3 linked regions of the Homo sapiens genome follow. The protein of the gene in region 3 purifies or fractionates together with the protein of the main gene of each other region. This does not show direct contact. Each region holds a gene or a part of one and is shown on either strand. Other genes may lie near its edges. The genes, in order: MARK2, WWC1 and PARD6G.

The links.
Region 1: the proteins of PARD6G (region 3) and MARK2 purify together in Homo sapiens (affinity purification with mass spectrometry; one large-scale study listed by BioGRID and IntAct). This does not show direct contact.
Region 2: the proteins of PARD6G (region 3) and WWC1 purify together in Homo sapiens (co-immunoprecipitation; one large-scale study listed by IntAct). This does not show direct contact.

What each region holds. Positions count from the first base shown.
Region 1 is NC_000011.10:63,897,989-63,901,639, forward strand, and holds part of MARK2 (serine/threonine-protein kinase MARK2), read left to right. Parts: intron 1-243; coding exon 244-292; intron 293-619; coding exon 620-685; intron 686-774; coding exon 775-845; intron 846-1,063; coding exon 1,064-1,120; intron 1,121-1,885; coding exon 1,886-2,122; intron 2,123-2,570; coding exon 2,571-2,690; intron 2,691-2,791; coding exon 2,792-2,891; intron 2,892-2,968; coding exon 2,969-3,081; intron 3,082-3,651. UniProt on the Homo sapiens protein: Serine/threonine-protein kinase. Involved in cell polarity and microtubule dynamics regulation. Phosphorylates CRTC2/TORC2, DCX, HDAC7, KIF13B, MAP2, MAP4 and RAB11FIP2. Phosphorylates the microtubule-associated protein MAPT/TAU.
Region 2 is NC_000005.10:168,420,579-168,424,229, reverse strand, and holds part of WWC1 (protein KIBRA), read right to left. Parts: intron 2,223-3,651; coding exon 2,133-2,222; intron 698-2,132; coding exon 162-697; intron 1-161. UniProt on the Homo sapiens protein: Regulator of the Hippo signaling pathway, also known as the Salvador-Warts-Hippo (SWH) pathway.
Region 3 is NC_000018.10:80,206,014-80,209,664, forward strand, and holds part of PARD6G (partitioning defective 6 homolog gamma), read right to left. Parts: intron 1-3,651. UniProt on the Homo sapiens protein: Adapter protein involved in asymmetrical cell division and cell polarization processes. May play a role in the formation of epithelial tight junctions. The PARD6-PARD3 complex links GTP-bound Rho small GTPases to atypical protein kinase C proteins.

The sequences.
Region 1 (3,651 bases), on a different chromosome or scaffold from region 3:
AGAGGGCATGGCTGGCTCATCCTGATGCCATCCCGGGTAGCACGTCCCCACAGCCAGCCCTCCTCCAGCTTCCCCAACTTCCCAGCCACAGGGAAGGCCGTGCATGAGCTAGACAACCACCCTATTTTCTTTTCCCTGCCCGGTTTTGGTTTTTTGGGAAAAACAAATCCTGGCAGGGACTGTTTGGAGAGACCTGATGGGAGCAAGTTGGGCAGGCATGACCCCTGGTATTTTATCTTCCAGCTATTCCGCGAAGTAAGAATAATGAAGGTTTTGAATCATCCCAACATAGGTGAGCACAAGTTGTTATTTCTTTCTTCTTCCCCAACAGCAAGGCACTGCTTTCCAGCATGTCATCTTCTCCCCGAGGTGCACTGCCTTCTGGAGTCTGCAGTCTTCAAGGATACCCCTGGGGAAGCTCAGCTCAAAATCCATCTCCCCTTCTGGCACACTGGGCTGTCTTTAGCAGTTTGGCTGGCATGAGAGGAACTTGTTCTTGGGAGTGGGGGATCATGAAAGGAGGGGAGACTTTCGTTCCTAGGATGCTCCTGGACATGTTGGAGAGCAGTATGTGGCCCCTGTTGCTTCTTGACTTAAGGCTTGGCCTTTTCTCTTGTAGTTAAATTATTTGAAGTGATTGAGACTGAGAAAACGCTCTACCTTGTCATGGAGTACGCTAGTGGCGGTAGGTGTGGAACTGCCTCTTCCTGTTGTGCCCCCACTTCTTCCACCTCCAGCCAGCTCTGACTGAGATCCCTGCCTGGTCTCTTACAGGAGAGGTATTTGATTACCTAGTGGCTCATGGCAGGATGAAAGAAAAAGAGGCTCGAGCCAAATTCCGCCAGGTAGGTGTGACTCCCTCCATAGGAGCTAGGCCTGACCTCTGCTTTTGGGGTTTGACATGTAAGGATAAGCTGCCTGTCTGTAAGTGGCCCTTGGAGGGTACTTTGGGCTCTGCTTATCCGTGTGGCAGGTTAGCACTAAGTCACAGGGTCACTGCTCTGTCAGCCCCTGTGGCCCACCCTCAGGCACCCCTGGGTTAACCCTTCTTCCTTCCTTTCAGATAGTGTCTGCTGTGCAGTACTGTCACCAGAAGTTTATTGTCCATAGAGACTTAAAGGTAAGGCATGCACTTCTCCTTGTGCCTTTGAGTGGGAGCCAGGTTGTTGCCTCTTGGTTCTCCATGATAAAACCATCAATAACCATCAGGCCCTGAGTGTTCCAGGAAACTCCAGCCTTTCTTTTTTTCTTTCTTTCTTTCTTTTTTTTTTTTTGAGATGACCAGAAAGCCCCTAGGGCTGCCTCTGATAGAGGCCTTGTGGCTGGACCTCGGGTTCCATTCTAGCCCTTGAGCAGGGGCCCTCTGCCATTTCACCTCTTGGCACATCACCTTTTAGTGCTGCCAAGCAAGGCAGGCACACTCCAGGCTTTCTCAGTCTTTCAGGCAACCTGGTAGCTGACCCAGGGAAGAGTGCTGAAAGTTCCACAGCTGTATCCCAGCTGCTTTGCAGGCAGGCACACACATACCATCTCCATCACCAAGATACTCAAGTTTGAGGACACCTGTGGGTCTCTTGGCTGCTGAGTCCTCACAGACATGATTTGATTAACCTGGGCCTGATGCTGAAGCTTTGCACAGCTCACAGGGTCTCTGGGCCTTCAGATCCCATCTCTCCCATGGCTGCCCACGTGAGGAGTGGCCTGCATTGCCTTCCTCCTGCCCAGCCTATTCACGCTGATTGAAGCCCTGCCCTGAAATTGGTGGAGAAAGTTCTGAGACTGAAGATGACTTTCCGTTTGTTCTCCCATTCCCCTCAGCTCCTTCCTGCCCAGGGCCTTAGTCTGGTCCACTTGGTTCCCTGATGTTTTCCATCTTACCTCCCAGGCAGAAAACCTGCTCTTGGATGCTGATATGAACATCAAGATTGCAGACTTTGGCTTCAGCAATGAATTCACCTTTGGGAACAAGCTGGACACCTTCTGTGGCAGTCCCCCTTATGCTGCCCCAGAACTCTTCCAGGGCAAAAAATATGATGGACCCGAGGTGGATGTGTGGAGCCTAGGAGTTATCCTCTATACACTGGTCAGCGGATCCCTGCCTTTTGATGGACAGAACCTCAAGGTGGAGTGAAGTGCAAGCTTTTTATTGCTTCTCATTTCCTCTCGGCCTCTGGTCTTAGCCCTGACCTCCTGCCTTTGCCACCTGTCTACATTTGTCCCAAGCCAAAGCTTCAGAGAAGGGCTTGCTGAGGTAGCAGCAGTCAAAGGCCTTCTGCACCTGGGAATGAATAACCTCAGTTCCTTTCTCGAAAGATGGGATAAACTGTGTGTGTGTTCATCCCCCAAGGCACTCCGGATTGCAGGCCTCGGACTGGTCAAGTTAGAGGGTACGAGGGTATTTGACTTCACTTGCCTCTCTGGTGAGGTGTCTTGTCCCCAGGCTGTCTGCCTTCTTCCATATTTCATTTATGTCTGCTTTGCCAGGCTTAAGCTCTCAGGATCTTGGATATTAGGTTTCTTCCTTTGGCCTTGGGGTGATTTCAATTTTCTAACCCTGGATCCTCCTGCAGGAGCTGCGGGAACGGGTACTGAGGGGAAAATACCGTATTCCATTCTACATGTCCACGGACTGTGAAAACCTGCTTAAGAAATTTCTCATTCTTAATCCCAGCAAGAGAGGCACTTTAGAGGTGAGCAGTGGAGCCCAACTGGCGGAAGGGCCTGGGGTCCCCACAGAAACTTTCCAGCTGAGTTTCTTCCCCCTGCCCTTTTCCTTCTCTGTGCTCCCCAGCAAATCATGAAAGATCGATGGATGAATGTGGGTCACGAAGATGATGAACTAAAGCCTTACGTGGAGCCACTCCCTGACTACAAGGACCCCCGGCGGACAGGTGAGGCTGTGCCGGGCTGTGAGGTTAAGCTTGCCTAGGAGTTGAGGCCAGTCTTAACTGTATGTCCCCCTGTGCAGAGCTGATGGTGTCCATGGGTTATACACGGGAAGAGATCCAGGACTCGCTGGTGGGCCAGAGATACAACGAGGTGATGGCCACCTATCTGCTCCTGGGCTACAAGAGCTCCGAGGTGTGTGCTCCCCGCCCCATTCTCTGACCTGGCCAGCCTCACTGTCTGTAGCACCTATGCTTCTAACACCTGTTGAGGGCAGAAGCTCATCTCTGAGTAGGTGTGCTCTCTGCTCACCAATTTTAAGCCTCAGCTTTGGTGTCTAAGGTCCTCTGGCCCATTCACTGATCTCCATGAGTGAATTAATAGAAAGCTGGTAGGGTCGGTGTGGGACTGGGTCAGAGTTTCAATACGGGTGAGTTGATCTAGGTTAGTCTGCATTGATTAGATGTGTCTAGGTCATCGGCTAGCACTACTACATTGATCTAGATATCTTTGTGTCTCTTTTTGTATCTGGAAGTGTACATTTCTGGGTGTGTGTGTGTGTCTCTGTGTGTGTCTGATCGGAAGTTTGAGTCTGTTGCTTTTTTTTTTTTTTTTTTTTTTGAGACGGAATTTCGCTCTTGTTGCCCAGGCTGGAGTGCAATGGCAGGATCTTGGCTCACTGCAACCTCCGCCTCCCGGGTTCAAGCGATTCTCCTGCCTCAGCCTCCCAAGTAGCTGGGATTACAGGCATGTGCCACCATACCC
Region 2 (3,651 bases), on a different chromosome or scaffold from region 3:
AGTTAATAAACATCCACTGAATAAATATACTTGCCATACAAAGACCCAGCACACAGAAGCAGTCAGTAAATATCGACTAGAATGATCACTGGGGGGTTCTGAGCACAGAGTATCTCTTTCCCTCCTCCTGGTTCCCACCCTCTGGGTATGGTGCTCTCTACCTTGGCCCAGCTGCTTGCCCTCCGTTCCTGGTTCCTCCAGCCGGTATCTTTCCTGGGCGCTGTTACCAAGGCTCAGTTCACAAAGAGTGGCACTCAGCTCCGGGTCTTCAAACTCCAAGGAGTTGAGGAAGGCATCACCAGCCAGGAGGGGGTCAGCCATGAGAGGGGAACAGGGTGGGGAGGGGGAGGAGAGAGAGGAACGTGGGGATAGGGAGGTCATGGACTTTGGGGTGCCAGACAGGGAACGCAGAGCCTGCAGGCGGCCACCTCCCTCTGCCTTCTGGGTCTTGGCCACCTCATCCTCGTGGATGGTGGTGATGCAGCCTGAGGGCCGGAAGCCGGTGGCCCCCTCCAGGAGCAGGAACTCCACCTTGCTCTGCAGCTCTGAGTCCAGCTGCTCAAAGGGGTCATAGTAGAGGTCAGTGAAGCTGGCTGAAGTGGAGGAGTCCAGGCTGGATGCAACCAGGGAGCCCCGGCTGGACGTGAGGGATCCGGGGCTGCTGCCTGAGGACAGGGACTGCATGCTGCTTGAGAGACTGGGACACAGGGAGGGGAAGGACAGTGAGATGCACACAGTGAAGTGGGCCCCCTGAGACCTTCTGCTGAGCTCTGGAAAGCACCATGATCTCACTAGACTTGCTTGGCAATCTCTAGGGTAGACCCTTCACCCCCACTTCATGGAAAACTGATACCCCAAGAAGGCCACATAATCAAGACATGGCAGAGCTGGGCTTTGGACTCAAGTTATAGCTGCCTTAAAAGTCCACTTTTTCCTCTAAATCTGTGTTTCCCAAAGCTCCAATTGGCTACGTTGCATTTGTATGATATGTTTTCATAGTTGAATCCATTATGTAATAAAGATTTCTTAATATCTTTCTTGAAATCAACTCACTGTGTTTTTTTTTTTTTTTTTTTTTTTGGGGGGGGATGGAGTCTTGCTCTGTCGCCAGGCTGGAGTGCAGTGGGGCGATCTCGGCTCACTGCAACCTCCGCCTCCTGGGTTTAAGCAATTCTCCTGCCTCAGCCTCCCAAGTGGCTGGGACTACAGGCACCTGCCACCACGCCCGGTTAATTTTTTGTATTTTAGTAGAGAGGGGGTTTCACCGTGTTGCCCAGGCTAGTCTCGAACTCCTGAGCTCAGGCAATCCGCCTGCGTCGGCCTCCCAAAGTGGTAGGATTACAGGCGTAAGCCACCACGCCTGCCCCAACTCACTGTTTTAATACTTTAAAACATCTATATTAAAAGGAAACTTTACATCCTAAGTGTAATTTGAAAAGCAGTATCACTTACTACAAAGAGAAGACCACCATTAGAAAAAAATCTAATGGAACAAAATGTTATTGAATTCCACTGATGCACTGTTGTTCATGGAGGCCCAGGTCTGAGGCTACATTCTCTGTGTTGTGCAGGTAGGTGGCAGTGTGAGTTTCCTAAGGCTTTTTTTTTCTTTTTGGAGACAAGGTCTGGCTCTATCACCCAGGCTGGAGTGCAGTAGCACAATCTCGGCTCACGGTAAGCCTCCTCCCGGGCTCAAGTCATCCTCCCACCTCAGCCTCCTGAGTAGCTGGGACCACAGGCATGCACCACCACACCCAGCTAATTTTGTATTTTTAGTTTCGCCATGTTGCTCAGGCTGGCTTCAAACTCCTGAGCTGAAGCGATCCACCCACCTTGGCCTCCCAAAGTGCTGGGATTACAGGTGTGAGCCATGACACCCAGCCGAGTCTCTTAAGACTACCTATTACCTGCCTGGGGCCTTCTTTGTGCTATCAGTCTGGAGAGGTCAAGACCCCTATTCCTAGCTACACCAGGCCACGCCCGAGTCTGCTGACAATCCATTTGCTATGCTTCTAAACATCCACTCTCAAGCCACGGAGGACAAGTGAAGGGTAGAGCCTGGGCTGGGACACTGGGGACACCCATGTCTGGCCATGCCCAGGGGAGCAGTGGCCTCACCGCCCACCACTCACCTTTTCAGCTGGGAGTGCAGAGTTGCCACCTGCCGGGTGGCTTCCTCCAGTTCTCTCACAAGCTGGTTCCTCTTACTGTTTAACTTTAACCTGGAAGGAGAGAAAGCATGCGAGGGATGCACCAAAAGGAAGCACAGGCATGCACTCTTACCCATGTACACCCAGACCCACAGGCACAAGAACTTTCCGTAAAGCATTTGACCACGGCATCTGGGGAGCTAGAGCTTCCACATATATTATAATCCTATGATAACTGCAATATCACTCACCCACTATATATATATATCAGGCACTCTGCTGGGAACCTTAGGACACTGCCTTAATTCAGTCACACAATAATGCTGCATAGTAAGAATGATTTTTACCACTTTACATAAGAGGAAATCGAGGCCCTTAGAGTTGTATAATTTACCTAAAGCTGTGGAATTAGTGGCAGAATTAGGATTTCACCCAACCATACCCTCCTTCTCTTCCTTCCTCCATCTTTCAGCTCATATTTACTGAATGCCCGTTTTGTACTGGACCCTGCCTGTGGCACTGGGGATAAAGTAGTGAGTGAGCACAGTAGGACTTGTTTCTGTTCTTATAGGGCTTACATTCTACTGGGGAGAACCGATATTAAAGAAATACTCAAATATCTAATTAACACAGTGTGTGACAAGGTCCATGAAGAAAAAGTACAAATGGTAGAAAAGAACACAAAAGGAGAGGCCCAATTTGAACTGGCAGGTGAGCCTCTTCCAGTCAAGTGACTCTGTGGCTGAGACTGGTGGTGTGTACCCTGCCTCCACCATTTTCCCAGCCTTCCCTGTGGCCGGGTGGGCAGGGCGTATGACCAAGTTCTGGCCAATGGGATGTGAGCACTAGTAGTTAAGAAAAGTGTGTGTGTCTTCTTTACTGTCTGTTGCATGGACTCTTGTGGACTCAAAGGGGAGGCGTCACAGATGGAAAGAGCCTGAGTTCCTGAATGACCACATGGAAGGCTGCCTGTTAACTGGACATACCCAATTAGACATTATATGAACAAAAAATAAACCCGTTGTATGAAGCCACGGAGACTTTGGGGGCTGTTTCTTGCAGCAGTTAGATTCCTGACTAGTAGAGAAATTTAAGGATGGATAATGGACAGCAGTTGGCTAGGAAAAGTGCAGGAGGGAAGAACATTCCAAGCAGGGGCTTTAGCAAAGACCTTATCATCTTGAGGTCACCATGACTGTGGGGAGGACAATGGGCAGGAGGCTGAAGACTGAAGGCGGGGAGGGTGGCTGTGAGGTGTAACCGAGATGGTGGAGGCTTGAGCAATGCAGAGACAGAGACAGTGCCTGGGCTGCAGGAGCAGCTGAGGCTGAGGGAGTAAATGTGGAAGACTGTGCGGTTACTGCTACGGGCAGCCAAGTGGCCCTGCAGATGGCATCTGCTAAGAGGAAAAGGCTGAGGCAGAGGATCCCGGGGGAAGAGAAGAGCTCTATTATGGATATGTGGGTATGAATACTGAACAGGTGGGCTGCTCTAAAGGTCG
Region 3 (3,651 bases):
AGGCTAAATGTTAGTTCTACAATGTTTCAGTCTTAACTTTATTTAGCAACTAACCTAAAACACATCTCAGTTTCTCAGTACGTTCAATAATTTTCTCAAAATATGTCTTAGCATGTTAACTTGAAATGAAAAATAAATTCAGACTGTTTCCTGAGAGAAAACAAGGTTGATTTGTGTTTAATGATGAGGCTGACTTTGCCAACCCAGCTATATGGTAAACATGCTTCATATGTTGAATGAGCTCCAAAGTTTTGACAAAAAGAGATGTGAAATGTGACATGACAAAAGCATTGTATTTAAAAATCATATTGGTATTGGGTACTAAATATTTTTATTTCCCCATGATATCAGATTAAACAAGAGTCCTCTAAATGAAGGAATTAGCAGGTATAATTCATTGTCACATACTTCTTGGTAAAGTCCTTCCAGTATACTTACCAGAAACTGAAACAGTGAATGGCTCTAATGACCAGGCAATAAACCTTGCAAGTCAAGTAGTTTCCAATTACTTGCTTTTGACAAAATATAAAGTTGTCCTAACTGAACTGTCAGCTAATTATCAAAATAATTTTGAGAGACCACCCTATTATTTTTGTCACACAACCTGTTGAGAGTTCAAAGAACTGAGCTGTGCTTAGGGGCCTTCACTCTCATCTACCTGAGTGTGCAAATGAAGCTTCACAGTGTTGACACCCAACAATAAAAATTGCAAAACAATTAGTGCCAGCCTACCTCATTTATCAATAAATACTTAACAGTAAATGAAAGATTCTTCAAATGTTTATTTGGATGGCTAGTGATTATCAATAAATACTTAACAGTAAATGAAAGATTCTTCAGATGTTTATTTGGATGGCTAGTGATTATCAATAAATACTTAACGTAAATGAAAGATTCTTCAGATGTTTACTTGGATGGCTAGTGATTATCAATAAATACTTAACAGTAAATGAAAGATTCTTCAGATGTTTATTTGGATGGCTAGTGATTATCAATAAAGACTTAACAGTAAATGAAAGATTCTTCCGATGTTTATTTGGATGGCTAGTGATTATCAATAAATACTTAACAGTAAATGAAAGATTCTTCCGATGTTTATTTGGATGGCTAGTGATTATCAATAAATACTTAACAGTAAATGAAAGATTCTTCCGATGTTTACTTGGATGGCTAGTGATTATCAATAAATACTTAACAGTAAATGAAAGATTCTTCAGATGTTTATTTGGATGGCTAGTGATTATCAATAAATACTTAACAGTAAATGAAAGATTCTTCCGATGTTTATTTGGATGGCTAGTGATTATCAATAAATACTTAACAGTAAATGAAAGATTCTTCCGATGTTTATTTGGATGGCTAGTGATTATCAATAAATACTTAACAGTAAATGAAAGATTCTTCCGAAGTTTATTTGGATGGCTAGTGATTATCAATAAATACTTAATGTAAACGAAAGATTCTTCAGATGTTTACTTGGATGGCTAGTGATTATCAAATTGCACAACTATGTTCCAATCACCATTTGATAATACTTGTTAATAACTCAATCTAGAAATTTACTATAACAATCTATTTCATTTATAATTGTGGTAAAACACACATAAAATTTACCATATTAGCTCTTTTTAAGTGTACAGTTCAGGAGTGTACATTCACACTGTTATGCACCCACTCTCTAGATTGCTTTTCATCTTGCAAGCTAGAACCCTATACTAGTAAACAACTTAAAAATATTTTTAACAAATAGAGCCCCAGGACCACAAGAGAAAAATATTTGAACTTCAATTTATACATATTTTTTGTTGCAGAGAAGAGTAACAGGGGTAACGAAGCATAAGTTATTAGAATAAAATATTAGGACAAAAATCTCTTGAGGGAGTAATGGGAAGAAGAAATCAAAGAGAAAAAGAAACCATGTATAATTTCTGATTAGAAAAGAGCTCTTCAGAGTCAGAAAAGTGGCAAAAATAAGAGTCTGTTTATCCTATTTTAAAATGCATGATAGTGGTATCAAATCACTGCAGCATTTAGATTTCACTGTATCAAATCACTGCAGCATTTAGATTTCACTGTATCAAATCACTGCAGCATTTAGATTTCACTGTATCAAATCACTGCAGCATTTAGATTTCACTGGCTGTATTTAGAAGATCATGCACCAAAAACTTTATTTGTAATGGAATATTTACAGCATGCTGTAAATTACATCCTTTGCAAACTATTTATATTTACTAAAAAAAATTCAGGTACCAACTTAAAAATATATCATCCCCTTTTATAGTGGTAGTTTTTCAAAATTCTTTCAGGCTTCATGTGACATTTGAAGACCACAACATCAGAGTTCAGGGATCACTATGAAAATGCCTAAACCACCATTAAAGGTTAGCAGGAGACTTGGCACTCCCTAATATTTTCATTGTTTTTCATGTGGGTGTTTGTTCGTATAGCAGGACTTACAACAGGACGGCTGCTTCAACATCTGCTGGGCTTCATTCATTCACCTACTATCCCGCACATAAAATGCCTCAAAGGGAGCCATCCTATCCCGGGAGGTCATCTCCTCACTCCAAACCAGTGACCAATTTCAATGAAAGATCAATACTCAAGCCAGGCATGGTGGTATACACCTGTAGTCCCAGCTACTTGGAGGCTGAGGCAGGAGGATCACTTGAGCCCAGGAGTTCCAGGTCAGCCTGGGCAACATAGCAAGACCTTGTTTATGTTAAAAAAAAAAATCAAATTTCCTAAAAAAGATTGCATTGCTGTGCCTGGCCTAGGTTAGTAGCAAGTTAATAGATAACCCCATCAAAAAGTCCACATTGGCCAGCGATGGCTGATGTCTGTAATCTCAGCACTTTGGGAGGCCAAGGGAGAGTCCGAGACCAGTCTGGCCAACATAGTGAAACCCCATCTCTACTAAAAATACAGAAAAACTTAGGCAGGCGTGGTGGCACACGCTTGTAGTCCCAGCTACTTGGGAGGGTGCTCCAGGAGAACTGCTTGAACATAGGAGGCAGAGGGTGCAGTGAGCCAAGATTGCACCACTGCACTCCAGCTTGAGTAACAGAGTGAGACTCCATCTCGAAAAAAGAAAACAAACAAACAAACAAAAAAAAAAAACACACCTTTCCCTCACCAGTACCCTGACACTATGAGCTGTATCATTTCCCCTTAAAAGGACCCATGGTTCCGAGGCAAAATGGCTAATTCCAGGTATATGGCAAGAAATGTATGTAAGCCTATGAATCCCATGTTTATTTTTAAAGAATAAGATTATTTGTTATTGGGAAATACACAGGTGTGCAAATTCTTATTCTTCAATGCTTCTAGCTAAATGAACCCTCATTCATTATTTAGATAATGATTATTCTATTTTGTAGTTGACCCCAACTATTATTCCTACAACAGGATAGTAAAAAACGGGGTTGGGGGAGATTTCATCTTTTAAAATTATTAAAAATTATCTCAAATACAAAATACCAAGATCAATAAGCAAAAGCGTATCAGCATCTGGCTAGGTGTGGTGGCTCACACCTGTAATCCCAGGACTTTGGGAGGCCAAGGCAGGTGGATCGTTTGACTCTAGGAGTTTGATACCAGCCTGGGCAACATGGGGAAACCATGTCTCTACAGAAAAGTACAAAAATT